Regions from separate parts of the Homo sapiens genome. Here all the other regions are reported to be linked to region 1. The links are microRNA targets in miRTarBase. Many come from high-throughput screens and were not tested one by one. Region 1 holds a microRNA gene; each other region holds the end of a gene's coding sequence.

Region 1 (4,079 bases):
AGGCCTCTGGACTGGGAACACCAGGGCATTGCACCGGTGCAGGCAGGATGAGCCAAGGGGAACGGAGAGCCAGGCATCGCTAACTGGCGACAATTTGGGTTTGATCTGGACGGAGTCTGTGTCTTCTGGTAGAGAGAACCCCTGGGATTTTCGCTCTGCTCCTGGCTGTCTTTCAGTCATGGAATCTGATGACAAAGACTCCCGCCCAGAGCCAAGACATTTGGTTTCTGGACCCCAGTGGTCCTTTCTGCCTGGACTTGGGATCTTTTGGGGAAGTTTGGGATCTGGCAGGGCATCTGCATAATCCATAGAAATCCCTGAGAGTCCCTTCCCTTTGCTGACATCTCCATGTTCCTACCTATTAGCTTCCAAAGGAGACTCCTATCTGAATTGCCGAAGGCAGCTTCCCAGGCCAGGGATACCCAGTTAAATTTGTATTTCAGATCAATAGTATATTTCAGATGTACTTGAACAAGAAATGATTTGCTGTTTAGGTGTGGGCATTTGTATTTCCCCCTTTTTTTTTTTTTTTTTTTTTTTTTGACAGAGTTTTGCTCTTCTTACCCAGGCTGGAATGCAATGGCACAATCTTGACTCACTGCAACCTCCACCTCCCAGGTTCAAGCGATTCTCCTGCCTCAGCAGCCCGAGTAGCTGGGATTACAGGCATGCGCCACCACACCCGGCTCAGTTTTTGCATTTAGTGGAGATGGGGGTTCACCATGTTAGCCAGGCTGGTCTCAAACTCCTGACCTCAAGTGATTTCCCTGCATCGGCCTCCCAAAGTGCTGGGATTATAGGCATGAGCCTCCACGCCTAGCCTCAAGTGGTCCTCTTGAGTCAACCTAGACTACAGTCTATGCTAGAGAATGTTTGTGTGTGTGACAATGTATGTTCTTGAACATCATAGATTCCACTTTGGATGCTCCTGTCGGGACTGTGTGTCCCTGTGCTGGAACTCAAGTGAGAGTTGGCTGAAAATCCATTGCTGTTCTCTAGAAATCCAGCCCAAGTCTCTTGGTTAGAGATAAGGTATGTCTAGTGGGCATTGCTTTTTCTTTTTGGGGACAAAACTCAGAAGGATTGCCCCTTGATGAACAAGGCTAACCTGCTGATTCTTTGAAGGAAGGAACTGGAGATGGTCTTTTAGGGGTTTATATTCTGGATTCCAGAAAACTTGCAAACAGGGCCAATACATGCATCTTTATATTTGTGTCCGTTTTGAACTGGTTAAGGAAAATTTCAACAAGAAACCCAGAGTGCCGGAGCAAGAAGATCTCAAGCTGTGGGTCTGCAAAGGGAAGCCCTTTCTGTTGTCTAAAAGAAGAGAAAGCGCTTCCCTTTGCTGGATTACGGTTTGAGAAAGCGACGTTGAAGTTGATGCATTTGCAGAGCATGCTTATCATCAGGCTTGGACAATGGCGGGGTTCTGTTTTGGTTTTGCTTTTTCATTCTAAGACAGGATCTCTGTTGCCCAGGCTGGAGTGCGGTGGCAGTGGCATGTCCAACCTAGCCCTCTTGGATTCAAATGGTCCTTTTTTGCAAGCAAAGTCTCTCTCTCTCACCCAGGCTGGAGTGCAGTGATGTGATCTCGGCTCGCCGCAACCCCCGCCTCCTGGGTTCAAGCGATTCTCCTGCTTCAGCTTCCCAAGTAGCTGAGATTACAGGCACCCATCACCACACCTGGATAATATTTGTATTTTTAAAAATTCATTTATTTATTTATGAGACGGAGTCTCGCTGTCACCCATGCTGGAGGGCAGTGACACGATCTCGGCTCACTGCAATCTCTGCCTCCTGGGTTCAAGCAATTCTTCCTCAGCCTCCTGACTAGCTGGAATTACAGGAGCACACCACCGCACCTGGCTACTTTTTGTATTTTTTTTTTAGTAGAAATGGGATTTCACCATGTTGGTTAGACTGGTCTCAAACTCCTGACCTCAAGTCATCCGCCCACCTCTGACTCTTTCTGGGATTGCAGGTATGCGCCCCCACGCCTGGCCTAATTTTTGAATGTTTAGCAGAGATGGGGTTTCACCATGTTGGCCAGGCTGAACTCAGCTCCTGACCTTAGGTGATCTGCCTGCCTCGGCCTCCCAAAGTGCTGAGAATACAGGCGTGAGCCACCGCGCCTGGCCATCAACACCTTTTACCCCACAGAAATTATTCTGGCACTGGTTTATGGAACTTCACTTGGGGTCAGGTAGAGGTGAAGGGGACCCCAATGTCCCTTGCAGATGGGATGTGTACTGCTCAGCAAGAGCATGGAGGTGGAGTGCATGGGGTTTGAGTTTTCATTGGGGAAATGAAGCTGAAATCTTGGGTGCATGACCAGGTCGTATATGCAACGAGACGGGCGTCTCACTATGCCGCCCAAGCTAAAGTGGGCTTAGATCCTCCTGCCTCTGGCCCTCCCCAGTCCTTAGTAGCTGGGACTACATGTGAATATTAACTCATGTACAGGAAGAGGAAAGTAAGGACTGTTCTTTGATTCATGCCCCACCCCCACTTAAATTTCTATTTCAGATAAACAATGTATTTGAGATGTACTTGAACAACAAATGATTTGCTGTTTAGGTGTGGGCATCTTTTTTTGTTCCTAATTTTAAGTATAGGACAAGGCTGGGTACCACGGCTCACACCTGTGATTCCATCATTTTGGGAGGCCAAGACAGGAGGATCACCTGAGGTCAGTTGTTTGAGACCAGCCTGGCCAACATGGTGAATCCCCATCTCTACTAAAAATACAAAACTTAGCCCAGTGTGGTGGTGGTACACGCCTGTAATCCCAGCTACTCAGGAGGCTGAGGCAGGAGAATCACAGGAAGCCGGGAAGCTGAGCTCTCAGTGAGCTGAGATCGCACCACTGAACTCCAGCCTAGGCAACAGTGAGACTCAATCTCAAAAAAATAAAAAATAGGCCGGGTGCGGTGGCACACGCTTGTAATCCCAGCACTTTGGGAGGTCGAGACGGGTGGATCACCTCAGGTCAGAGTTCAAGAGCAGCCCCGCCATCAAGACAAAACCTCCTCTCTACTAAAAATGCAAAATATAGCTAGGCGTGGTGGTACACACCTGTAGTCTCAGCTACGTGGGAGGCGGCAGCAGGAGAATCTCTTGAACCCGTGAGAAGGAGATTGCAGTGAGCTAAAATCACACCATTGCACTGCAGCCTGGGCGACTCCATCTCAAAAAATAAATACATAAATAAATAAATACATAAATACATAAAAAATAACCCAGAGTACTGGAGCAAGAAGATCTCAGGCAGTGACCCTCTAGATGGAAGCACTGTCTGTTGTCTAAGAAAAGATCGTGCATCCTTTTAGAGTGTTACTGTTTGAGAAAATCAACGTTGAAGATGCTGCTGATCTTGGTAACACATTTGCAGAGCGTGCTTATCATCAGACGTGCATGATGTTGGGGTTCTGTTTGTTTTGTTTTTTTTTTCCAAGACAGTGTCTCTGTTGCCCAGACTAGAGTGGGTGGCACCTCCAACCGAGATCTCTTGGGCTCAAGTGGTCCTCTTTTTATTTTTTGATTTTTTGAGACCCACTCTGGTTTCACTGGGAGTGCAGTAGCAGAATCTCTGTTGACCGGAAACTCCACCTCTCAGGTTCCAGTGTTTCTACCACCTCAGCCTGCCGAATCATTGGGAATTCAGTTGCCTGCCATCAGGTCTTGCTAATTATTATTGTTTTTTTGTTTTTTTTTTTTGAGGCGGAGTTTCGCTCTTGTTGCCCAGGCTGGAGGGCAATAGCGCGATCTCGGCTCACCGCAACCTCGGCCTCCCGGGTTCAAGTGATTCTCCTGCCTCAGCCTCCCAGATAGCTGGAATTACAGGTGCCTACCACCCCACCCAGCTAATTTTTGTGTTTTCAGTAGAGATGGGGTTTCACCATGTTGGGCAGGCTGGTCTCAAACTCCTGACCTCAGGTGATCCACCAGCCTTGGCCTCCCAAAGTACTGGGATTACAGCTGTGAGCCATCACCCCTAATCTCAAATGGTCCTGTAGAGTCAGCCTAGACTGTGGTCTATCTTGGAGGATGTTTGTGTGTGAGACAATGTATATTCTTCA
Region 2 (4,073 bases), not on the chromosome of region 1:
GGGGTTTGTGTATTTTTTGATAGTTTGGGTATTTATCCTGTTATTCTATATTCACCAAGTCAAAGTGGAATGCTTTTCTTATAAATATCTTTAATGAATAAGCCAACTTTAGATTTTAAAACTAGCTGCAATTTTATTTTCTCATAGGTGTCATCTTTAAGAAATGAAAAGCGAGGCTCATCATATCTCATCTCTGCCCCAGAAGGTGGTTCAGTGGAATGTGTTGACCAGCATTCTCAGGGCACAGGAGCATATTACATGGAAACTTACTTAAAAAAGAAGCGAGTATACTGAGTTAAGCTCTCTCCTAATAACCCCCTAAGGTTCTCTGCAGTATCTCTGCTGTTCATCGCTGCCTTAACTTCATTCAAACTAGCCATATCCTTTAAATACGGGTTTATAGTTTCCCAGAAGGAACTGTGTTGTGCAGCAGGCAGAAATGCCAAATAAAAAATAGCAATAAGAAGAGACATCAATTGAGGACATTTTCCACTAGAGTCAGATGCATCTTAATCAGTGTGCTAACTTACAATCCATTGGAGAAACTAACAATGTTCCAATATTCCTTGATTTAGGACTGGGAATAATTCTGACACCATATATAAAAGAAGTTTGAAGCAATAAATGGGAAACAGTGTTGTTTCCTGAGCCTTAGAAGAATGAGTTTCTTATAAGCCAATGTGCATTTCAATTTACTTTCCCTAGAAGTAATTGCATTTATAGATTTTTAGGACTTTTCCTAGAACTACAAGGGTGCAAGTACCAAATGTGCTGATGGTAATATTATAAAGATGCTCTACATGCACACTCAATTACGCCCACACCAGCCATGCAAAATTAAACCCGGTAAGAGAGTGACAGTGATATCCAAGGTATCCACTACTACCGATGCTTTAAGATGTTGTTTACCATTTATACCTTCTGTGAAAAATAGAAGGTATTTTAAGAAAAGTAACTTTGGTGATCTAATAAAAGGGTTTGGCAAACTACACCCTGGGTCCACATTTGGTCTACCACCCGCTTTTGTGCTGCCTGCAAGCTAAGACTAATGTTTACATTTTTAAATGGTTGGAGGAAAAAAGAAAACTTATGACATGAAATTTATATGAAATTCAGATTTCAGTGTCCATAAATAAACTTTTATTGGGACGTTGCCATGCTCATTCATTTACGTGTTGTCTGTGGCACTCTTACGCTACAAGGGCAGAACTGATTAGCTTCAACAGAGACTGTATGGCCTACAAAGACCATATGGCCTAAAATTTCAAGTATCTGGCCATTTATATATAGTTTGCTGATCCCTGATCTAATAGCACTAATTCTAATAGCAACTATTCCTTTCAATTCACCTAAAGACAGACCTTTAGCCTTTAGACAGACTTGTAAGTGGAAAGGAACATGGGTTTCTGTGCTCATTTCATAGCGTAGACTAGTAATGATCTAATGACTAGAATGGGGCCTATTTTGATCACTAAATGCCCTATTATTTCCACAATATAGTATAGTAAAGCAGTCAATACTGCACTTTCTGATGGAGTCTTAAGGAGTCACAGTATTTATAACCATTTTGAGCTAATAAGCTATACCTCACTCTCTGCTTTCTCTCTCACTCTTTTTGATAGTGTGTTAGGGTGAAAAATCAGTTATTTAACCCAATTTACTTGTGAAAGAAGTTTTATCTTTATGGACTATGATGACTTTTGACATCACCATTTCTTGAAGACCTTGGTATTAAATGCATGAGAAACCTTTTGCCATCTAGAAATTTCTAAGTTTGTTTATGTTATAAGACTGTAATTAATTGATAGGGAATTTGGGATCTCAATCCGGGGCTTTTTGAAATCAGATCATTAAATATCTCGTCACTTTGGGGACTTGTTATTTTTAACTATGATGTGGATATCCTGTTTTAATTATGAAGTCTAGAATTGGTACATATGTTGTATGCTTTGTAAAGAATTTCACTTGGTCTAATTTATTGCATATACTAGCTTCTGTTGGAAAATGACTGACAGCTAGAAAGTTTAAGGTAATTTCTAAGTATACTACCTATAAGTAACTGATAAGAATTAGGCATCATTCAGTGATATAGCAGATGACTAATGGGTTTTTCAGGCCCTGCACTTCTCTTTCCCATTTTCCTGTTGCATTCAGCCTCTTCAATGCTTAGTCACACCTCCACTATAGTACAAACAAACAAACAAACAGAAGAAAGGAAAGATGGTGAATTTTGCAACAGAGCTGCAAAAAGTCAGTCAGTCAAAGCAGGAAGAGGTTGAAGGAACTAAAACAAACAAACAAAGGTGTCTGGACTACAGCACAGTGGACATGCCATCCATACTGGCCTGTGCCCCGTTATCAATCACTGGGCACAACAGTGAAGAAGTGCAAATCAAGTGGTGTTTGTTTGTTTGTTAGTAGTAAGGACCGTAACCCACCCCTTCCTCCCCCCAAAACTATACTGTTATTTTTCTATGTAAGCAAATTGTTTGAAATGCTTTGAAAATGAAATCTTAATATTAAAAGGCATATGCATGTAAAGTCTTTAGTATATTTATTTGTATAAAGAGTAAACAAAGTGCATATAGAGTGGCCACAGGTTTGACACAGAGACCTTGGTGATGTAGGCTATGAACAAATTTAAATGGCAACTTCATTGCTGCCACTGAACCAATCCTGAATTTGGGCTCAACAGGTGAAAAGTAACAATATCAAACGAATACTAAACAGCATAACAAAAAGATTTTCAGACTCTTGGTCATAAAGACCGTAATCGTTCACATTGAATCAATGACTAAACATTTTTGATTACCCAGCTACCTCCAAGCAAACTGAAAACTGTCTAGTGGATCCTGAAGTCCATAGTGCCTCTAGCCGGGTCTTTCAAGTGTTGCACCACAGGGTGATGATTGATGGTAAAAACAGGGATCAACCCTTGTAGATCGGTGGTAAGTATGGAAACCCTCTAAGAACAGTGCAGCGTATGTGGTATTCAGACTGGTTGCATACAGCATTCAAAACCAGTGCTGGAATAGCTTGCCCCAAAGTGGTAGAGTTATAAAAGGATATACATTGACGTTTCTTAAAAGCATGTGTAATAGCATCCAGGTTCTGGGAATGAGTTCTGATTAAAGGTATACTGCTTAGGAAAGCACTGGCACAGGCTTAGTTCTTGAGAATTAACATGCAGCAAATTATCTATTCCACAGCTATCCCCCCATGTAGAACCAGCTTTCTCAAAAATGGGTGCTAGTGATCACCCAAAGGAACAGGAGCTAAGCCACTGGAGAAACAAAGTTTAAGTCCTACTGGTGAGAGAATACAGTCATTTTTGTACAGAAACAATATATACTACCTGGTATCTAATATTTTAAGAATGCATGGTCTAGTACTGTATAGATACTGAAATTTGAGGGCTAAGTCCATCAATCTTTCTTTATCTATGATTAATGTGCCAGCAAAACATTTCAGATCAGCTGGCAGCAGGGAAAAGCAATCATCTTCAGATATTATTTTGGTCAACTCCTCGTTTTCAAAAATCCCCTTTTGGTAATGCAGTTGTGATGGTGAACTAGCCAGATGAAATGGTGGTATATTCTTTCCACAAGGAGGAGTGCTTAAGTGCTTTCAAATATTTTGGTTGTCATTATGTGTCACTAAGTTACTGGTACCAAATTTAAAGAGGAAGTCCTTACACATATTAAGCACTACAGTGTGCCTTATACATGTATATGTACTGAAGTATGAGTTCAGTGACTTTTTGGACAGAACACAAACTTCTTTCATTAGAAATTTTTAAAAAATGACTTGGGCATTTGTTGCAGGAGAAGGACTTGATAATCTGTGGAATTTAAATGTTATTCATGCTTCTTATTTTAAAAGTGCTTCAAATCCTTCAATAAGGTTCTGAAAGCTTGTCCGATTGGATGGTTGGAATTCCCAGCATTTCCTCATAAGTTGATAAACCTGTAAAAAGAAAGAAGTAACAACAGTAAAAATGTTAGATCTGGGAACTTTAAAAAATAACAGAAATATCAAGAGTAAGAAAATAATTTTGGAAATGCAATGACTTT
Region 3 (4,079 bases), not on the chromosome of region 1:
TGTTCCATTTTGTCCCCTTTCAGTTGGTTACTGTATTTTCCCTTTCTTTGAAATGTAGTCATTCTTAACCCAGTAACCTTCCTATACAATCTGTACAGGTACATGAGCAATTTCAAATTTTATTTGGATTAAGTGTTTTTTATACTGAGGAACTAACTGTTCTTTCCATTTTATATCTAGCTTTTAGTATCACAGATCTACTTTTTGGATTTTTTTCCTCCCCTTTGATTGCAAAATGAATGGCAATATCATGCACTTTGTTGGGATTCTTTTTTAGTAGTATACAATGCATTCTCTTTGCTATGAGTAACCCCTGAAGCTGGAGATGGGTCCTAAATAAAGGATTCTAATTGCAGCTTTGGTTCTTCATCATACCTCCTTCCCCACATCAGCACGTGCAGAATTGAAAAGTTCAAACCTGACTGCCATTTGAAAAAGGGACATTGCAAATTTGTTTTCATTAACTTTGTTATCAATACATGTAGCCTGTGGTGTTAAAAATTTTAAAGGGAGAAAGAGGCAATTAGCATGAAATGTTCAAATGAATGGTTTGTGGTGCCTTTGACCATGCATATGTTGTTTTGGGAGGTCAGCTTGTTGGCTCTGTTGTAAGGTTTTAAATGGATTATCCTGTGAAAGAGATTGGGTATAGTGTTTCTCAGGTGTACAGAAGAAAAAAGTTATTAAACCTGACCATTCTGAGTCTCGCCTTACATTGTTTCAGGTATGATTAACAGTGTCAATTTAAAGCACTCAGCCACATAGCAGGATGAAAAAGTTAATGTAAAACTAATCCACCAAATAGAAAAATTTAATGTGGTTCTACTTTGAAGCAGAAATGGACTTGAGGGAAACTATTAAGCAAATTGAAGGACATTGCTCCTAGGTGAAACAATCCAAGTAATGTGGTAATTAGTACAGATTGTACTCCATACTGAGGCTTCAAGTACCATGTCTTAAAAGATGAGTGAGATACATGTGTCATAAGGACTTAACTTCATTTAGCCCCATCCACCCAACCAAACAAGTACCAAGAGGTGGTAGTTTTTACAAAGTCATTGTCCTTGCCTCTTTCAAATGAGATGGGTTGCTCCTCAGAAGAAAGTAGTTTTGTTTAATCAAAGTGATTGAGGATATCTGTACTCCCAAACTTTGCATAGGATTTAAAATACCATCTAGGCCGGGCACGGTGGCTCAGGCTTGTAATCCCAGCACTTTGGGAGGCCGAGGCAGGTGGATCATGAGGTCAGGAGGAGTTTAAGACCAGCCTAGCCAACACAGTGAAACCCCATCTCTACTAAAAATACAAAAATTAGCTGGGCATGGTGGCGAGCGCCTGTAATCCCAGCTACCCAGGAGGCTGAGGCAGGAGAATCGTTTGAACCCAGGAGGCAGAGGTGGCAGTGAGCCAAAATTGCACCACTGCACTCCAGTCTGGGCGACAGAGCTAGACTCCGTCTCAAAAAAAAAAAAAAAAAAAAAAAAAAAGTTTGGTACTGTTTGTTTTTGAGCTAGGGCTTTTAAAGAGGTGGTATGTCAGGATCAACAAGTTAGATCTTGGTCTCTGAGGGTGCTGATAAATACCTAGGTTGGTTTATCCCTGCCCCCCGCACGCCCCCCATAACCTCATTCCCTTGATTGATTATAATGTATACTGAGGTAACTTTATTTAATAATTTTACATTCTGTTAAATTTTTTTTTTTTTTTTGAGAGGAAGAAGTCTCACTCTGTCACCAGGCTGGAGTGCAGTAGCGCGATCTTGGCTCACTGCAACCTCCGCCTCCTTGGTTCAAGCGATTCTCCTACCTCAGCCTCCCAAGCAGCTGGGACTACAGGGGCATGCCACCACGCCTGGCTAATTTCTTTTTGTATTTTTAGCAGAGACAGGGTTTCACTGTGTTAGCCAGGATGGTTGATCTTCTGACCTCGTGATCTGCCCGCCCTGGCCTCCCAAAGTGCTGGGATTACAGGCGTGAACCACTGTGCCCGGCAACATATTCTGTTAATATATTTAAAAAGCATTACCACTTATGACTGGAAAGAAAAAAAAAGTTCTCTCCAGAAGTATCTGTCTTGTCTTTTCCCCTCCCAGAATGAGTATTTTTGCTTTTACCTTAATGTTTGAGGGGGGAAATGAGTACATATGAGATCCCAATAAGAAACCAATACAAAAAGTTTATACTGAGCTAAAAAAAAAAAAAAAAAGATACCTTGACTATGAAATTTTAAGGTTATTTTTATTTACAACTTTTGAAAAATGTACATTTTTTTTTACATGGGTTACTTGTGCAAAGTTAGATTTGGAAGTGATAAATGCATAAAAGGTGACAATAGAACATTAGACAAAACATTTACAAGCCTTGTCCCATACTGCTACTTAAAGGTACTATATATCTAAAAGTATAAATATCCAAAAAAAGATCGCAGACATTGGCTTTAAGGTTCTCAGATGCTGAAAGGGAAGAAATTAAAGCATGCAGCAATAACTCAGGATTTGAGTGGAAAATAGTTTGCCACAGATATGCTATGCTCCCTTCCTTGAATTCATTAAAACTCTAAAATAAAGATGGACAATTGAGTTTATTCACTTAGGGCAGCACTGATCCTTTAAAAAGATTAAAGGAGCTCCAACTTTCCCTAGCTCAAAAACTCACGATTGTTTCCATTCCTCTGCTCCCACACCTCTTTTAAAAAGCAAAAACCCAGAAGACCAATAATTCTGAAACTTGGCATGAGTGTGCCCAGTCAGCAGCTTGCAAAGAGAGGATGTGTCAGTTACTACAATTGCTGTACTCCTTTAGCTGAGTCCTTCAACTTTCTCCTTCTTGCCAGTAAATACTACGTTGTAATTCATATGACTGAGATCTTAGTATCACAGGATTTTTAGCTCCCATGCCTCCTTCAAAATTGTTTACATGGATTTGTTTCTATTCTCTGTAGGCCATATTCCAAACACATTCACTTCTAAATCCAACACAAGTGAAGGACCAGCCAGGATGAAACACTTCAGCAATCATTTTGTTAAAAATAACATCCTGGTCATCAAGCTAAGCATAAGCACCTCTTGTATAACAATTCATCTTAAAAGCTTAAAGTACAATAATAAAAATAACTGCCTGAAAACTGGAAATGAAATACAACAGAAAAACTGAAGCATTAGTAATTTTTGCAAGTAACCCAGGTACAGTACATTTGATTTCATAGAGGGTGTTTTCTGATGTTTAAGGAGAGGGTAGAAGGGGTAGGAAAACTTGGCAAGGAAGATGGAAACAGCACAACAGTTATTTTGCTTTTAATAAAGTAAATGTAATGACAGGAGTAGGGAGGTGACAAACACATCAATATATATTTTTCTTATGGCCAGCTTCTTTAAACTGTACCCGGGGTCAACAATCACGCCAGCTTTGTTCTACTATTGCAGAAACACGCTTTTCATATTCCCGTTTGTTCTCCTGGTACAGCTGAGCAGCCTGGCTGTTTGCTGGACTATTGGGATTGGGTTCATCCAACAGAGACTAAAGAGACAATTTTTAAAATGTCAGTTCCTTAATGCAAAACAACTATTTTATAAGGTAGTGACACTCAATTGAATTGTCCTAAGTACAGCTACATTTCTTGTCTTTAGCATACAAACCCAGAGTTATGTGAATCTGCTAGTAGCTAGGAAAATATATGCGGCTTTTTTTTTTTTTAAGGGAGAAGAGTCTCACTATGTTGCCCAGGCTGGTCTCAAACTCCTGAACTCAAGCAATCCTCCCACCTTGGCCTGCCAAAGTGCTGAGGTTACAGGTGTGAGCGACTGTACCCAGCTGACTTGGGTCTTAATGGTCTACTTTTCATCTATAAAACAAACAAGCTTTGACCAAAAATAAAAAGATCTATTACATTATGACTTTCAAAAACAATTCAATTGCTAATATAAACATATTAAAAGTTATAGTTCGTCACATTAAGGAAAAATTCACCTGTATGGATGTTAGAATGGAAGACACATCATAGGTTGGACTCCAACGGTTCTGAAGTATGTCCAGACATATACTACCATCTGCATAGACTAAGAACAAAGAAGTAGGTACAT
Region 4 (4,000 bases), not on the chromosome of region 1:
GCAGGTGTGAGAACCTATGTCAGTACCATCAGAATTCCCATTCGTAGAATCTTAAATACTGGTTTAAGTGAGACTACATCTGTTGCAATTCAGACCATGTTAAGGCAGATAATGACAGGTTTTGGTGAGTTAAGCTATTTTATGTACAGTGATAGCGACTCAGAGCCTACTGGCTCAGTCTCAAATCGAAATATGGAAAGGGCAGAGTCACGGAGTGGAAGAGGAGGTTCTGGTGGTGGTAGTAGTTCTGGTTCCAGTTCGAGTTCCAGTTCCAGTTCGAGTTCCAGTTCCAGTTCAAGTTCCAGTTCCAGTCCTAGTTCCAGTTCCGGTGGTGAAAGTTCAGAAACTAGCTCAGATTTATTTGAAGGCAGTAATGAAGGAAGCTCATCATCAGGCTCATCAGGTGCCAGGCGAGAGGGTCGACATAGGGCCCCAGTCACATTTGATGAAAGTGGCTCTTTGCCCTTCCTTAGCCTGGCTCAGTTTTTCCTCTTAAATGAGGATGATGATGACCAACCTAGAGGACTCACCAAAGAACAGATTGACAACTTGGCAATGAGAAGTTTTGGTGAAAATGATGCATTAAAAACCTGTAGTGTTTGCATTACAGAATATACAGAAGGCAACAAACTTCGTAAACTACCTTGTTCCCATGAGTACCATGTCCACTGCATCGATCGCTGGTTATCTGAGAATTCTACCTGTCCTATTTGTCGCAGAGCAGTCTTAGCTTCTGGTAACAGAGAAAGTGTTGTGTAATTAAGATCTGAACTCTCAGCTATGTAGCTGATATAGTGATGGGCAAACAGGAATCACTTGCTTTTATGTCCACTTTTTGAGTGGTACTTAAATGTAAAGTAACAACCTGAATTGAGTCATTGCTTTCTGAAGGAATCATTGTCCTTTCTCCAGTTTTTGTTCCAGAATAAAAGGAAATATTTTAAAAGCCACGTTATAGGACCTAAAAATCTGATTTCCGTACCAGTTAAATTGGTAGCATCACTGTTACTGATAATTTATCATATACACTTGTCAATTTTTCCTTTGTTATCTTAAAAGATCTGCCTTAGCAATGGCTCCTTTTTCATGTTGATCTTTAAATTTTCCCACACCATAAGAGAGGAGCAAAGGAAATTACCAGTTTAGACTAAGTTACAGTATGTGTTTCATAAGTGATTAAAGCTATATCATTCCCAGTTATTAGTTAACACAAATTCAGCCACATTCTGAGTATTGTTTGTTCACCTTTCAGACTTGGTGATACTGGACATGTCAGTGTAAATAACACTAAGGTTAGGATCTTCTAAGTGTATAACTGTCTCCTAAGCCCATCACTGTGGCACACTGTAGAGTGAGCTTATAGTTTAATTGAGATATTTATCTTGTGGAAATATTAAAAAGCCTATGCTTGTGTAAGTGAAAAAAAATCACATTCATTTGTTTAAAAATGTAAAGCTATTTTGTAGAGGCTCAGTACTTTTCCAATGCACTGTTGTATGAATGCATTAAAAATTGTAAAGTACCATGCTTAGAACTGAGAAAACTGCTTTTTGTGAGCCAACATAGTAACAAACACACCAAACAAAGTACAAAGCTGCTTTTGTAAGTGTGTAGATGTCAAGAGCAGAACATATCTATAATATTTAATGTGTGAACAGCTACTGTGACATGCAAAGGAAAGGACAGTGCAGAATTAAACCGTGTTGAAGACCAGTGGAAATTGTATAATTTAACTTGGATTTAGGCAGGAAGTGAAATATGGGAGGAGTAAAGAAAACTGAAGAATTTAAAGTTTTCCTGAAGACAGTAATAATGCAGACACAAACTGGTTTCATATGGTGAGAGCAGCCACAGCAGCAGCTTGACCTGGTATTCTACCTGAGTAGATGAAGCAGAAGATCAGCAAGTTTGGCAGAGTTTTGGTTTAAGAAAAACAAACCACTACTACCTAGCACAAGTTAAATTTACAAGTCTGCTCCTCAAAAATGAAAAAATGGAGGAAAGAGACTATAAAACCACTTTTAGCATATGAATTGCAGTTGGTACACATGTGTGTGTTAATAGGAAAGTCTCGAATTTGTGTTGTTTTTGAGATTTGTCATTTAAGGTACCAGTGCACACTTGATCATATTTCATTACTATCTCTAACACAGTCCTAACATCTCAAATTTAAAGACCAGTTGAAGATTAAGGGATTTTTATCCTTTGTTGAAAGTCATGTTGGGTTATTTGAAATTCAAATTTTAATTGTGCTGCCCATATATGAAAATGAGACTGCTGACTCGCTATCTATGGACATGCACTTTATGTTGGTTTCTTAGTAGTAAGAGTAACTTCATGATAACCCCAGTCTTCTTGCCTAATTTCTTTTTTGAGACTAGCTGGGGTTAGGATTAGAATGACTATGGAGCAGATATTTGTTCTTCTGGGAAAAGCTTTAACAGGCCAAAATAGGGATTGAACTTGTCCTTGGCCTTTATCAAAGCAAGCTAGCTACCCAGACGTAGTCAAATACTCTACAAAATAAACAAGTCTGCTTTAGGAATTGTCTGGGTACCTTCACTGTTACCAACTTAGCTGTAAAGATTATTTCAAAGCTCACTCTTCCATGATTTCTTCTGGCTTTCAATCCTATCTAAGTATCAAGGAAATTAACTTGTAAATATGGTAGTTGTTTACTAAGGATATGTACTGCTCTTGCAAGGAAATAATGTCCAAACAAAGCTTCACTTATTTTTTTTAATATAAGCAGATTTCACTGTTTATGGCGCTTATGTAATACATTTTATCTTTTTAAAAATTTGTCCGTGTAAAAGTCAGGATTCCTTTATATTTGTGAGCCTCCTTTTCTCCTTTCCTAAGGATGTAATCTACAGTTTTCAGATCTGCAGGGTAGTCTTGATTGGCTAAAAACAAATCAATTTTCTTCTTGGCATAAAGTGTTTCATTATTATAGGGGTGTTCATTTTAAATAGTTTAAAAACAATTGCAGCACATTCTAAGCATAAGAGAAAGTTATTGACAACAGGTACCTTCCTAATCTCCCAAGACGTACTTACTCATTTGTGAAGTATTAAAGTAAGAGGTAACTCAAGCAGAATGCTGGCTATGAATGTAGATATTGAAGCTATTCATAAACACTGGAAATAGAATTTTAAGCTTTTAGCCTTCAGTGGAATGCACATATTGGACATGTGCATGTGAACACCTTTTTCAGTAGCACTCACGGATTTCCATTCGATTGTATAGAATGAATACAAGTGTTTTAGTGGAATTTGCTACTTAATTTTTAATCTTGCGATGTCCGTGATTATTACATGCTTACTAGTGTTGTGGACATTGAAGACAAGGTCATTCGTAGGTGTCAGATTACAATGGAGAACAAAAATCGTTTTCCCCCCACCCACATCCAAACACCATTCTCGAGGGAGCATTTCTTGCAAAACACCTTACATTTCATTTTCTATCTTTGCACTTTTTCTTAAGTACAGAAAAGTTGTCTTTAAGACCTAGTTTGAACTTCATGCAGTAAGAGGAACAAGGATAAACAATGTTGGGAGTTCACATTGTTCAGAGCATAAGGAAAAGTACCAAAACCCAAATTTTCTTGAATATTTCAGATGTTTTTAAAAACTCACTTCTAGTCTGAAACATTTGAATTGTTTTAACTCTGAGCAGCTGACAAAGTTGAGGTTTTTTTGTTTTGTTTTGTTTTGTTTTGTTTTTTTGAGACAGAGTCTTACTTGGTTGCCCAGGATGAAGTGCAATGGAGCGATCTCGGCTCACTGCAACCTCTGCCTCCTGGGTTCAAGCAATTCTCCTGTCTCAGCCTCTCGAGTAGCTGGGATTACAGGCGCATGCCACCACACCTGGCTAGTTTTTATATTTTTAGTAGAGATGGGGACTTCACCGTGTTGGCCAGGCTGGTCTTGAACTCCTGACCTCAAGTGATGTGCCTGCCTCGGCCTCCGAAAATGCTGGGATTACAGGCGTGAGCCAC
Region 5 (4,079 bases), not on the chromosome of region 1:
GTGGGCCCCCCGCCCCGTGGAACTCCCCGAGGTGGAGTATGGGAGACTGGGGCTGCAGCCGCTGTGGACTGGGGGGCCAGGAGAGCGGCGGGAGGTGGTGGGCACCCCAAGCTTCCTGGAGGAGGTGCTGCGGGTGGCTCTCGAGCACGGCTTCCGACTAGACTCTGTCTTCCCCGACCCCGAAGACCTGCTCAACTCCAGGTCTCTGCGCTTTGTCCGGCACTGAGGATGCTGTTCTCAGTTTGACTGTGGGGAGGAGAGAGAATGGGGTACTAGCACCCCTGAAGCCTCTTTCCAGCTCTGCTTCAGGAGCTATGAGAGTCGGGACTCTCCTGCACCTGACTGGAGCTCAGATGTGGGCAGGAATTCCCAAACCTGAGCCCACCAAGGACTCACAAGTGGTCCAGAAGGTCTCAACCTGTGCTGACCCTGGGAGGGGTAGGGAAGGTTCTCTCAGCTTGTTCTTGCCTAAGGCTGAGCACCTCCAGTCTCTCCTTGATTTGGAGCTCAGTGTTTAAGGGCTTGGAAAAGGGGGGAACATCTCTTTACCCAGACTAGACCTAGCAAAACCCTGGAAGGATATTGAGGTCTGGGGAAAAGGGAGGACTTTGCATTTTCCCAATGCGGTCTCTTGGACCATGGCTTCTACTCCTGAAGCTGGGTGGCCTGGCCTGGCCTGACCAATGAGAGGCCAGAACACTCTGGAACATCGGAAGAGGAGTTCTTTGCTATGTTCCAAGCCATCTACTGAGGGAGGCAGAAAGGCCACAACCCACCCTAGGTTGATGTATGGGAGCTAGGACAGTCCCCATGGCAATGGGGCTGGAGCATCCCTCATCTGGAAGAATCCCATACTGATGGCAGGGCTGGCCAGGGGGAAGAGGGTAGTATCTGTGGGTCCTGGCCTTTCTTCATGTGTGCGTGCATATCAGCCCGTGTGGCTGACTGATGTATAGGTCCCTGGCATCCTGGTTCATATCTGTGTTGCTGACTACAGTGTCTGTGATGTCCGCATGTCCAGGCCTGTTTGGGGTTGCCTAGCGACTCTTCTGGCACAGGGTGTGTCTGTGGTATACCTGTGAGGTGGTTGACAATTAGTAGTTTAATCACAGGGTGTGTGTGTGTGTGTGTGTGTGTGTGTTTATGTGCACGCATGTATATGCATCACCACGTAGCCAGGAGGGGCCTGTTGGGGTTTGAGTCACTGGGATCTTCCTGGTGAGAGGTAAGAGAAGTCACTGGGCTTAGCTGGGCCTCTGAGGCCTGTATGGAACTCTTGGTTGCTGAGGCAACCATGGACCTGTTGCTAGGAGATAGCTGGGGAAGGCCCAAGGCCGCCCAGGGCAGAGAGAGGAGACGAAGAGTTTGGGACAGTGGGGGAGGAGATGGGAAGGGATGGGATTTCTGGGTCCCAGAGCGGGTGGGATACTCACGCACAGCTTCTTCACTGGTGGGGGGTGGGGCACACATTATTTCTCACTGGTCATGATTTACAAGAAGAAAAATAAAACTGCTTTTGGAACCACAAACTTGTGAAGGCTGTTGAGGGCCAGGTTGGGGGTGCTGTCCCCTCACAACAGAAGCCCTGCTTTCTCTGCCCATCGCCTGCTGGAGATGCCTTCTGGACCCCAGTTCCTTGAGCCCCAGCTTTACCCCAGCTGAGGATGGGCAGTGCCATTGTTCATTGTTCTGGAACATTCTAGAACCTCCAGGCAAGGGCTGGAGCCAGGGCTGCAGAGCATTCCTCGGCTCAGCTGGGGCAGCGCCGCCCCATCCCCCAGTGGTCCTCATGTGGAGGCTGGCACTAGGCGGGGTTTTCCTGGCAGCCGCCCAGGCTTGTGTCTTCTGTCGCCTCCCAGCCCACGACTTGTCAGGCCGCCTGGCTCGGCTCTGCAGCCAGATGGAGGCCAGGCAGAAGGAATGTGGGGCCTCCCCAGACTTCTCGGCCTTTGCCTTAGGTAGGACCAGACATCCAGGGATGGGCCCAGCAAGCACTCACCCCCCTACCCCCAGAGGGTGGCATGTGACCTTCCAGCTGTGCCCTCCATCTGTGGCCCTTTCTGGACATGCTGGCCTTTCCCTCTGAGAGAGCTCCATATCTGGGAAAGTCAGGAGAGACCCCAGAACCTGGGCTGATGAGGGAATCGCTGGTCCTTGCCCATCTCCACAGATGAGGTGTCCATGAACAAAGTCACAGAGAAGACTCACAGAGTCCTGAGGGTCATGGGTGAGGTCAAGGGGAAAGAGTGACCTAGGGGCTTGGGAGGATACCAAGGAGAGGGACGGGTGACAGGGGTTGGGGTGGGCAGGGAAGGGTGGAGGGGTAGAGACAGGAGGGCTGATCAGGGAGGGGCTGCGTGAAGAGAGGGGGAACTGGCCCCGTCGAGGCCCAGGGAAACGGAGCTGCTGTCTGCCTCCCCAGAAATCAAAGAGGCTGTCTCCTCACTCCCTTCATATTGGAGTTGGCTTCGAAAGACCAAGCTCCCTGAGTACACCAGGGAAGGTACCGATGCGGGATGGGCCTCAAGGGGAGCCTAGGGTCTTAACCAAAGGAATGTGTGGTGAGCAGCTCATCCATTCACACCCCCACCCCTTCCTTGTCTTTCATTTCAGCTCTCTGTCCCCCCGCCTGCCGTGAGTAGGAAAGGAAAGGGGTAGCAAGGACCTGGGGCCTGCAGGGTGTCAGAGGAGGGCCTGGCAGCTGCAGGAGGAAGCTGGGTACCAGGCAGGGTGGAGGCCCGGCCTCCCCTCCCCAGCGTTGCCTCTGCTGTCTCCTGCAGGGGGCAGCACCACGCTGTACAACTGCTCCACCTGCAAGGGGACGGAGGTGTCCTGCTGGCCCCGAAAGCGCTGCTTCCCAGGTCCTCACGCCCATCTTGGCCCCGCCCCACCTTGCCCAGATCCCTGAGCCCTTGGGCTCCCAAGTCGGTGCGTGTGGGTCCCAGAATCATTCACTGCCTCCTGGGTTCCCTGCAGGAAGTCAGGATCTTTGGGAAGCCAAGATTCTGCTCCTCTCCATCTTCGGAGCTTTCCTGCTTCTGGGTGTTCTGAGCCTCCTGGTGGAGTGAGTTTTGGGATAAAGACAGGAATCCTACCCCGCCCAGTGCCTTCCACCACCCATCCTCCCTCCCTCTGTCCCTCCCAGGCCCCTCCCGTAGGCTTCCCACCCTCGTCTTCCCTCAGGTCCCACCACCTCCAAGCAAAAAGTGGCTTGTGAAGACGCTGAAAACCTCCCAGCCTCCAGCTCTAAGGGGTATGCACTCACAACTTCCACATCCCTTGGAGGGGAACCAGTCAGCCCCTTAGTCCCAGCTCCAAAGACAGTCTCCAGACCCTAAAACCCAGACATCCCTGCTTCTGGTTGGTGAGATAATGAAAAACAAGAAAATCCCCAAAAACCCAGATCCCCCACAATCCCAGTGTCAGATGGCCTCCCGGGAACCCAGGCACCCACAGCTGGAAAGTTCCTCCCCTCCAGCCCTCAACCAATCACATGGCTGTCAACAATGCCAGGAAAATATCTACAGAAGGAAAGAATCCCCTACGCCACTCCCACCACACCCACACCCCCTTCTGCCTGTTCCGGGAAAGCGGGGGCATCTGCCCCAGAAGCTATTCCAGGCCCTCCTATGACTGATGGGGAATCCGGGAATGCATGTTCTGGAAAACTCACCCCACTAGAGTGAGATCACATCAGTGGGTTCGCGGGCATGCCCTCCCTCCATCGTGTTAACAGTTTGAAATCCTGGCCTCCCTCAGAGGCCTCCATCCTGCCAGGCCTAAGTAAAACTTGCTGTTCATGGCCTCTGCCCCTGCCTAGCCTCTGTCTGCAACTGGGGAGGGCAGAGGAAGGATGGGAGACTCTCAGAGTAGCACAGTGCTTCTCAGATGGGGGTGATTTTGCACCCCAGTAGACATTTTGCAACATCTGGAGTCGTTTTGGATTGTTTTAACTGGGGGGACGTGCTACTGGCCTCTGGTGGGTAGAGGCTAGAGATGTTGCTAAACATCCCACAACACACAGGAAAGTCCCCACAGCAAAGAATTATCCCGTCCAAAATGTCAGTGTTTACCAGGAA
Region 6 (4,079 bases), not on the chromosome of region 1:
TTATTTTTGAGACAGAGACTCACTCTGTCACCCAGGCTGGAGTGCAGTGGCACAATCTCAGCTCACTACAACCTCTGTCTCCCAGGTTCAAGTGATTTTCGTGCCTCAGCTTCCCGAGTAGCTGAGATTACAGGTGTCTGCCACCACGCCCGGCTAATTTTTTGTATTTTTTAGTAGAGACGGGGTTTCGCCATGTTGGCCAGGCTGGTCTCAAACTCCTGACCTCAAATGATCCACCCACCTCGGCCACCTAAAGTTATAGGATTACAGGCATGAGCCACCAAGCCCAGCCTTGTGTTTTTTGTTTGATTGTTTTTTGAGACTGAATCTTGCTCTGTCACCCAGGCTGGAGTGCAGTGGTGCCACCTCGGCTCACTGTGACCTCCGCCTCCTGGGTTCAAGCGATTCTCCTGCCTCAGGCTCTGGAGTAACTGGGATTACAGTCACCCACCACTATGCCTGCCTAGTTTTTGTATTTTTAGTAGAGACAGAGATTCGCCATGTTGGCCATGCTAGTCTCAAACTCCTGACCTCAGGTTACCCGCCCTCCATGGCCTCCCAAAGTGCTAGGATTACAGGCGTGAACGCCATGCCCGACCTACTTCGTGGTTTTGACTTGCGTGCCCTCTCATTCCACCCAGGGAAGCTTTCCGCTGGGCCCTCTTCAGCATGCAGGCCACAGGCCACGTACTGCTTGGCACCTCCTGTTACCTGCAGCAGCTCCTCGATGCTACGGAGGAAGGGCAGCCCCCCAAGGGCAAGGCCTCATCCCTTATCCCGACCTGTCTGAAGATACTGCAGTGAAAGCCCAAGTCCTTGGAAGCTTTCCCCAGTGAAGGACTGACTGGGGGCCTCACGCTTAACTGGTAGTGCCCACAAGCCTGGCAGCTGTAGAGCCGCGAACCTCCCCACACCTCCCTCACCGCGCAGGACCCTGAGTGAGGAGGAGGAGCTGGAAACCTGGGGTGGGTTGGCCAAAGGAGAACCTCAAGCTCCTGGCCTGATCCAGCTCCTTCCTGCCCAAGGCAGCTTAGCCCATCCAGACTGGTCCTGAAGTCTGTCCCTCCATTGGCATGAAGTCTGCCCCTTAGCAATCTGGCCTCGCAGGCTGTACTTTCATGGTGCTCTCTACCTTCTGGCCCCCATCCCGGAACATTCCTGAGTGAATTCGCAAGCGCACTAGCATGTGATATTAGGGAGTTTGCAATAAATTATTGAGGCTGATGTATCTTCTTTGCCTGTGTTCTTTGGGGTGGGGTTTTATCTGGAAGGTTGGAGGGGGCTAAAGGAAGAGACGAATCTATTGTCAAAGTATTCTCTTTAATGTAGGATTACAGCTAATGGCACTTTTTCTACCAAAGAAGAAAAAAAAAAACAGCTGGGCACAGTGACACGTGCCTGCAGTCCCAGATACTCAGCAAGCTGGGGTGGAAGCATCCCTTGAGACCAGGAGTTCAAGGCCAGGCTGGAGCACAATAGCAAGACCCCAGGCTCCTTAAAAAACAAAATTGCAGTTGATTTTGAAACTAAAGTCAGCTGAATTTGAGGCTTGAGCTGACCATGTAATTGATACCATAAGTAACAATTTCCTAATTAAATTCACCTATCAGAGGAGCTTCAATTGAGCAGGTGGGATTAAGTCACTCTTCTAATTTCTCAGTGTCCCATTTTATAATAACCGTTTAAGTGGTTAGGTGAAAAAGTACTACTCAAGCTGTAAGGCATTTCTCCATCAATGCCCATCCTAACTTGCCAGACAGCTTATCTTTCATGTTCAGGACTTTCAACCTCGGGATTTCAAAGTGGGCTCATAGGTAGCCCCAAAGAGTAGGAGCTTCTCATCAGTGTGAGCTGGCATTTTCCAGTATTGGACAACTCAAGACAAGCATGAAAGGCTGAACTTAGGCTGGGCATGGTGGCTCACGCCGTAATCCCAGCACTTTGGGAGGCCGAGCCAGGCAGATTACCTGAGGTCAGGAGTTCAAGACCAGCCTGACCAACATGGTGAAACCCGGTTTCTATTAAAAACAAAAAAATTAGCTGGCCAGCATGGCAGGCGCCTGTACTCCCAGCTGTTTGGGAGGCTGAGGCAGTAGAATCGCTTGAACCTGGGAGGCAGAGGTTGTGGTAAGCCAAGATCGTGCCACTGCACTACAGCCTGGGTGACAGAGCGAGACTCCATCTCAAAAAAAAAAAAAAAAGGCTGAACTTGTAGAACTTGTAGGTGACTGTTTTATTTAGTCTGTGACTGAAAGATTTAAAAACTTGGCCAGGTGCAGTGGCTCATGCCGGATATCCCGGCACTTTGGGAGGCTGAGGCAGGAGTATCGCTTGAGGCCAGGAGTTCAAGAGCAGCCTGGGCAACATAGCCAGACCCTGTCTCTACACTAGATAATAAAAAAAAATTAGCAGAGCATGGTGGCTGTAGTCCCAGCTACTCAGGAGCCTGAGGCAGGAGGTTCACTGGAGCCCAGTAGGTCGCGGCTGCAGTGAGCTATGATTGTGCCACTGCACTCCAGCCTGGGCAACAGAGTGAGAGCCTGTCTCTGGGAAAAAAAAAAAAGAGGATTCAAAAACTCTATCACAGCCAGCCGCAGTGGCTCACGCCTGTAATCCCAGCGCTTTGGGAGGCCAAGGCGGGTGGATCACAAGGTCAGGCATTTGAGAGCAGCCTGGCCAACATGGCCAAATCCCGTCTCTACTAAAAGTACAAAATATTGGCCGGGCATGGTGGTGGGCACCTGTAATCTCAGCTACTCGGGGGGCTGAGGCAGGAGAATTGCTTGAACCTGGGAGGTGCAGGTTGCAGTGAGCCGAGATTGTGCCATTGCACTCTAGCCTGGACGACAGAGTGAGACTCCGTCTCAAAAAAGAAACAAACAAACAAAAAACGAAAAACAAAACAAAACCTATTGTTTCACTACTCTTACTATAAAGCCTATTTGGATGTAGTAAATACTAAGGCAAAGGCCTATATTACCAAAGATGGTCTGGGAGCTATTTATGGCAGCGGACCCAAACCCTGCAGCCTATGGGCAAAGCGGCTGAAGCTCGCTGAAGAGGGCCTGCTATTCCGGGCTCTCCTGCTCTTTTGCAGTTATGGCTGGAGGCTGGCCCGGTGCCAGGCTGGCTCCATGGGGTGGGCTGTCTGGCAGGGAGGCCTGATGTTTGTATTAGCACAGAAGCTATCCCAGTCCACCCTTGATGAAGCTGTGGCGGGGCCTACCTGCTCCTTCCGTAAAGTGCTCAGTAACAGAGTTGGAGTGGGGGTGGGAGGCTCGGTATTTGTCCCAAGCTTCCCTCCTCCTGAGATCCGGAGTTTCACAAGTGAATCTTGAGCAACTGCCCATGGTCTCTTGGCATTGAGCCCAGGGAAAACAAGGTTCTTTCTTTTCTTCCAGGAGCTCGAGGCTAATGGAGTCAAAGCAGCTGTGGTCAGTGAACAGAAAAGGCAGCCTCTGATGAGGCTTGGGGGCTGGGGAGGGAAGATTCCAAACAGCAAAGGAGTTTGAGCCTCTGTAGGGCCTGGCGGTCCTAGTGGGGGAACGGCCTTTCCTGGGGCCCCCCGCACAGCCAGGAGCAGCTGTCGTCAAGGTGGACTGTGTCCCAGCCCCTCCAGCTCAGCCTTTTCATCTGTTCAAGCTGGTGCTCGGGAGTGCACAGGATGCCTTTCAGAAGAATTCTAAATCCCGGGGGCCTGTGATGCCACAGTCACATGTCTGAGCCCAAAACAAGAGAACCACTTGTGTTTTTGCCACTCTTCTTACCAGCGATGCCCATATTTGTGCATATAATTTTTTTTTTTTTGAGACGCAGTCTCACTCTGTCGCCTGGGCTGGAGTGCAGTAGTGTGATCTCGGCTCACTGCAAGCTCCGCCTCCCGGGTTCATGCCATTCTCCTGCCTCAGCCTCCCAAGTAGCTGGGACTACAGGCACCCGCCACCACGCCCAGCTAATTTTTTGTATTTTTAGTAGAGACGGGGTTTCACCGTGTTAGCCAGGATGGTGTCGATCTCCTGACCTCGTGATCCGCCGGCCTCGGCCTCCCAAAGTGCTGGGATTACAGGCGCAAGCCACCG
Region 7 (4,079 bases), not on the chromosome of region 1:
AAGAGCTTTAAAATCATAAATCTGTGTCCATTGATGTATGAAAGGATAAGCAAAATGTGGTATATACATACAATGGAATATTATTCACCCTTAAAAAGGAAGGAAATGCTTCAGTGTTCTACGTTGGATGAACCTTGAAGACATTATGCTAAATGAAATAAGTCAGTCCCAAAAAGACACTATTATTCCATTTATATAAGGTAGAGTAGTTAAAATCATAAGAGACAGAAGATAGAATGGTGGTTGCTAAGGTCTGCAGGGAGGGGGAATGGGGAGTTAGTTACTGTTTAATGGGTATGAGTTTCAGTTTTAAAGATGAAAAGAGTTATGGAGATGGACGGGGGTGATTGTTCCACAACATTACAAATGTATTTAATACCACTGAACCGTATGCCTAAAAATGGTTAAGATGCTAAATTTTGTTGGATTTTACTACAATTTTAGAGAAACTGTAAATACTTGAAAATATTACTGATTTTACTAACAAGCTGGATGCAACAGGTAACTCAGGCGTGTCAGTGGCAATCACTCTTTTCCCTCAATTTATACAGGTGTCTTTAATACATCTGGTGGAAGTCACTCCGGTCAGAATTCAGGTACCCTCAATGGTGGAGATGTCATCAATCTTAGACCCAACAAACAAAGGACCAAGAAAAACAGAAATCCTTTTAGCAGCTGTAGCATACCCTAAGATGTTTTGGGAGGAAAACAATTGAATTACATTGTGCAATGCATTAAGAAACCCATCCAGCTGTCATGGTATGTTACAAGGTTTTCAGCAGACTTTGCTCCTAATGGCTCTCTGAAAGTGACAGACTTAAATATTGCTCTGCAGTGCTTTTCAGAATGTAGAGTGAGACCTCTGGTGGAAAAATTATTGCCCTGTGGACTCCTTTAATTTTTTTTACATTAGACGAAGCTTCTCCTGTTTGTAAAGGAATGCTATAAGAAATTTCAAACACAGGTTTTGCGGAATTTTAAATGCTGGAAAACATAAATGAAATGCCTAAATATATTGTTACAGATTTTAATACTGTGGATCAAGGAAAGATAGCAAGCATTCTTTTCCTGAAATTGGTCATGTAGCTTTTCTGCGAAATAGTATTGAATCTGAATACTTTCACAAAATAATACTGAAAGGTAAACCCTAAATCTTGCCAGACTGCATTAGTATTTTGGCATTGAAACTTGTGCAATATCTGTGTAATGTAGAATGTGGGGTGTGCATGCAGATGTCTGGTACTGGAGTAAGCTGAAGGTATGTGCAGTATTTAAGAAAATGTACATTCTAATTAATTCACTTATAAAACCATTTACATATTGTGTATATGTTTTTATTTTCAAATGATAAACTCTAGACATATATTTTGCAAAATGAGCTTGGGTTTAAAAAGTGCTTTGTGCCAAAAATATCATACCTAATTTTTATAGTGCTTTACTATCAGAATTTATATTGTTTATTATATCTTTTAAAAGCAGTAAGCAGTTTTCATCTGACAGCGTAGATAAAAGAGGAGTATAGGAATTTGAATGCTAGAGCATCTCCCAGGTGAGCCTTATTGCAGATCTTTTTGATATAGTCACCCATAAGCATGGTGAGCTCCTGCTCTCATAAGGTCAGCCAAAGCCCCTTAAGAAGGTACACAGCACATCTGCAGTCATTCAGGAGGTCCTGTGAAGTGTGGTGATGCATCTAACACCTTTTGCTGCTCACTGAGAACCCAGCTTTGAACTTACAAGATTACACTAACCATTTTTAAAGTGCACAAAAATATTATTATTAGTCTTAACTAAAATTACATATTTTATAATGCCCTGCAACTCTAAACCATCCTTTTGTTTACACATTTTTGTATGGTATTTTAAGATTATCAATCACTTCAACATTTCTATAACCTTGTTTGTATAGCACTTTCTCAAGAGCTGTCAGTCCCACATACAGAATCATTTCTTTTACAAAATGATTTAATATGTAATCATGTGTCAGGACATAAATTTTGTCACTTGGGACAGTAGCTTTCCAGCTAAGATAATTGCGTGAACTCTGTTAAAACTGATTATCACTCATCAATGGCTTTATTTTTAACCTATAAATAACCCCTTTCAATATACCTGGTTTTTACAGCATTGCAAAATCTGTAAAAATAACTTTTATTGGAAAATGTCATGAAGTCATTTTTCATTATTTGTACTAAACAATGTTTTATGTACTCCTTTTGTGTTTTATCTTTTGTTTTTCCATCTGTACTCCCCTCATCCTCCTAATGTTGAGAAAATCAAATTTCCTGGGTGTGTCCTTGTTAAGTGATCAAAAGTAAATGTTCTCTTTGCCATTTTAGATGGAAAAATAAAAAAAATTAAAAAGTAAATTTTTGCTTTTCATTATATTGAAATGATCTGGCATTATCTATTTCACAGTAATGTAAAATGCTTATTTTTATGTCACCAGTTGTCACCACTCCCATTGCTGATAGTGACATAGGTTTTGGGGGCAAAATTCAGTTCCTAACAAACAGTGGATACTGCTAATGAGTCATCTTTTCTACTCTCTTCAATTTTCTACTCTCTACTCTCCTCTTTAATTTTTGCACAAAATAATACTTTGCAACAAATAGTCTTTTGTCTTTATTGGCAGAAAAATCACTTGTTATATGTGTTCTAGTTAGTTCTTTTTCATGTTAGCTGTGTGGCTAAAAGCGTGTTACCTTTCTATATTTAAAAAAAGTAATCTCTGAGGATAGTTACAGTTCCTGTAATATAATTTTATGTACCTAGTTTTATCTTTTTTTAAATAAGAACTGAAGAGAGAGCTTTGTTACATATTTGAATTTTTAATTTGCACTGCTGTATTTTAAACCTAACCATAATTAGTCATTTAAAATAATTAAGTAGGCCTGAAAGTCAGCCATGTTAATTTCTCAATTTAATCAATTCTTAAAGCCTTCAAAAATTGACATTTTTTTTCCAAGACCCTTCATTCTCTTAAATAACTTTAATTTTATGAAACCATGTATACTAAAGAAAAACTTTTCCAAGATTCCAGGTGATTGTGCATTTGTGCTCTAATCTACTTTTTTAACATTACGGCTAATCTTTTGCGTAGACATATCGCTGTGGAATAACTGCCATATTTCAGAGTTCCTCAGGTTTCCTTTTCCTTTTCCAGTCTCTGTCTATGAATTAAATAGTATATAGAATGACCCATATAAGGCAATATAGTTAAATAAAACCAGGTTAAATGATTTCCTTTGTATCTGCCCAAAGTTGATAGCACACGTTACTTTTTCAAAATAAAGCTAAAACTACCAAAAAGAGGATGAAAACTTTTTCCTCATTATGGAGTGAAGTTCTAGGTGGTTGCTTTAGAAGTTGGCAGTGCAGTGCTCAGAAGGAACTCTCAATAAATAACATGTACTCCTTGGACCTGTGAGTTTTAGGAAACTGGACCTTTTCTGAAGACCTTAGAATAGGGAGTTGGCCTTAGGACCTAATGTCCCAACTTAGTGTTGGACCCTTTTAATATAAGATATTGTTAATTATTAGCATACTTTTCAAAACCTTTGAAATAGTTACTGCTAACCTGATAAAATGTTCCCATTAATCTATCATTAGTCTGTTTCTCTGAAAACAAAATGCATTGATGAGGTGAAAGCTTGTTCCACATGGCACCTACCTAATGAACAGGACTTACTCAGTTTTTAACTGTTAAGAATGTCACATGTACTATTGTCACTCCTTAGGTTTTCAGCTATAAAACATGTAAGTCTCTCATCATACAGATGAATTCATTTGCTAACAAAATATTTAAAACCCGCAGTAGACTCTGAAATATCCAGTCATCAAACTCCTGGCTAACTGGATGATTTGGCTATAATAATCTTTATTATTATTATTTTCATCTGTCTCTCGAAATATCTACAGTAGGATGTTAGTAAATGGTCTTTTAAAAGCAAAAAATTGGGGATAAAAGGAAAACTGAATTCCTTCTATATTTTTATTACTAATAAATAATGCTTTTGTAAATTTGAATGGAAAACCACTTGTATGTATTGCTATTTGGTTGCAGTTACACTCTGGAG

What was found. The annotated mature microRNA hsa-miR-527 reads CUGCAAAGGGAAGCCCUUUC and lies in region 1 at 1,292-1,311, shown strand. An mRNA with a match to its seed (bases 2 to 7 or 8) in the 3' UTR can be bound and repressed. Matches are read on the target gene's strand: a 7mer-m8 pairs with bases 2 to 8, a 7mer-A1 pairs with bases 2 to 7 and ends in A, and an 8mer does both.
Region 2: the mRNA of RAVER2 is a reported target of hsa-miR-527. Seed matches in the 3' UTR shown: 7mer-A1 at 2,230-2,236.
Region 3: the mRNA of UBE2A is a reported target of hsa-miR-527. Seed matches in the 3' UTR shown: 8mer at 2,755-2,762 and 7mer-m8 at 2,289-2,295.
Region 4: the mRNA of RLIM is a reported target of hsa-miR-527. Seed matches in the 3' UTR shown: 7mer-m8 at 3,468-3,474.
Region 5: the mRNA of KCTD11 is a reported target of hsa-miR-527. Seed matches in the 3' UTR shown: 7mer-m8 at 607-613.
Region 6: miRTarBase lists CIDEC as a target of hsa-miR-527. Seed matches in the 3' UTR shown: 7mer-A1 at 1,201-1,207.
Region 7: miRTarBase lists RAB23 as a target of hsa-miR-527. Seed matches in the 3' UTR shown: 7mer-A1 at 1,367-1,373 and 8mer at 2,601-2,608.

The regions. Positions count from the first base shown.
Region 1 is chr19:53,738,057-53,742,135 of GRCh38, forward strand. It overlaps MIR518A2 (microRNA 518a-2), which reads left to right and starts at 1,277; the gene lies at 1,277-1,363. MIR517C (microRNA 517c) reads left to right here and starts at 3,257; the gene lies at 3,257-3,351. It overlaps LOC124904765 (a long non-coding RNA gene), which reads left to right and starts at 783. Exons shown (of 6, transcript XR_007067334.1): 1 at 783-1,032.
Region 2 is chr1:64,830,692-64,834,764 of GRCh38, forward strand. It overlaps RAVER2 (ribonucleoprotein, PTB binding 2), which reads left to right. Exons shown (of 12, transcript NM_001366165.2): 12 at 148-2,541. The coding sequence ends at 294. It overlaps JAK1 (Janus kinase 1), which reads right to left. Exons shown (of 25, transcript NM_002227.4): 25 at 2,538-3,966. The coding sequence ends at 3,871. Among named protein-coding and RNA genes, the nearest start is that of RAVER2, 88 kb to the left of the region's middle.
Region 3 is chrX:119,582,564-119,586,642 of GRCh38, reverse strand. UBE2A (ubiquitin conjugating enzyme E2 A) reads right to left here. Exons shown (of 6, transcript NM_003336.4): 5 at 3,967-4,055; 6 at 2,220-3,516. The coding sequence ends at 3,388. Among named protein-coding and RNA genes, the nearest start is that of UBE2A, 10 kb to the right of the region's middle.
Region 4 is chrX:74,588,199-74,592,198 of GRCh38, reverse strand. RLIM (ring finger protein, LIM domain interacting) reads left to right here. Exons shown (of 4, transcript NM_016120.4): 4 at 1-4,000. The coding sequence ends at 759. Among named protein-coding and RNA genes, the nearest start is that of RLIM, 24 kb to the left of the region's middle.
Region 5 is chr17:7,353,416-7,357,494 of GRCh38, forward strand. KCTD11 (potassium channel tetramerization domain containing 11) reads left to right here. Exons shown (of 1, transcript NM_001363642.1): 1 at 1-1,529. The coding sequence ends at 226. It overlaps TMEM95 (transmembrane protein 95), which reads left to right and starts at 1,741. Exons shown (of 7, transcript NM_001320436.2): 1 at 1,741-1,958; 2 at 2,171-2,227; 3 at 2,423-2,503; 4 at 2,614-2,634; 5 at 2,781-2,861; 6 at 2,977-3,064; 7 at 3,184-3,804. The coding sequence starts at 1,790. The coding sequence ends at 3,217. RefSeq lists enhancers at 1,282-1,808, 1,809-2,335.
Region 6 is chr3:9,863,859-9,867,937 of GRCh38, reverse strand. It overlaps CIDEC (cell death inducing DFFA like effector c), which reads left to right. Exons shown (of 7, transcript NM_001321142.2): 7 at 642-1,224. The coding sequence ends at 804. Among named protein-coding and RNA genes, the nearest start is that of CIDEC, 14 kb to the left of the region's middle. RefSeq lists a silencer at 3,559-3,853.
Region 7 is chr6:57,187,073-57,191,151 of GRCh38, reverse strand. RAB23 (RAB23, member RAS oncogene family) reads left to right here. Exons shown (of 7, transcript NM_016277.5): 7 at 552-4,079. The coding sequence ends at 691. BAG2 (BAG cochaperone 2) reads right to left here. Exons shown (of 3, transcript NM_004282.4): 3 at 1,319-4,079. Among named protein-coding and RNA genes, the nearest start is that of BAG2, 17 kb to the right of the region's middle.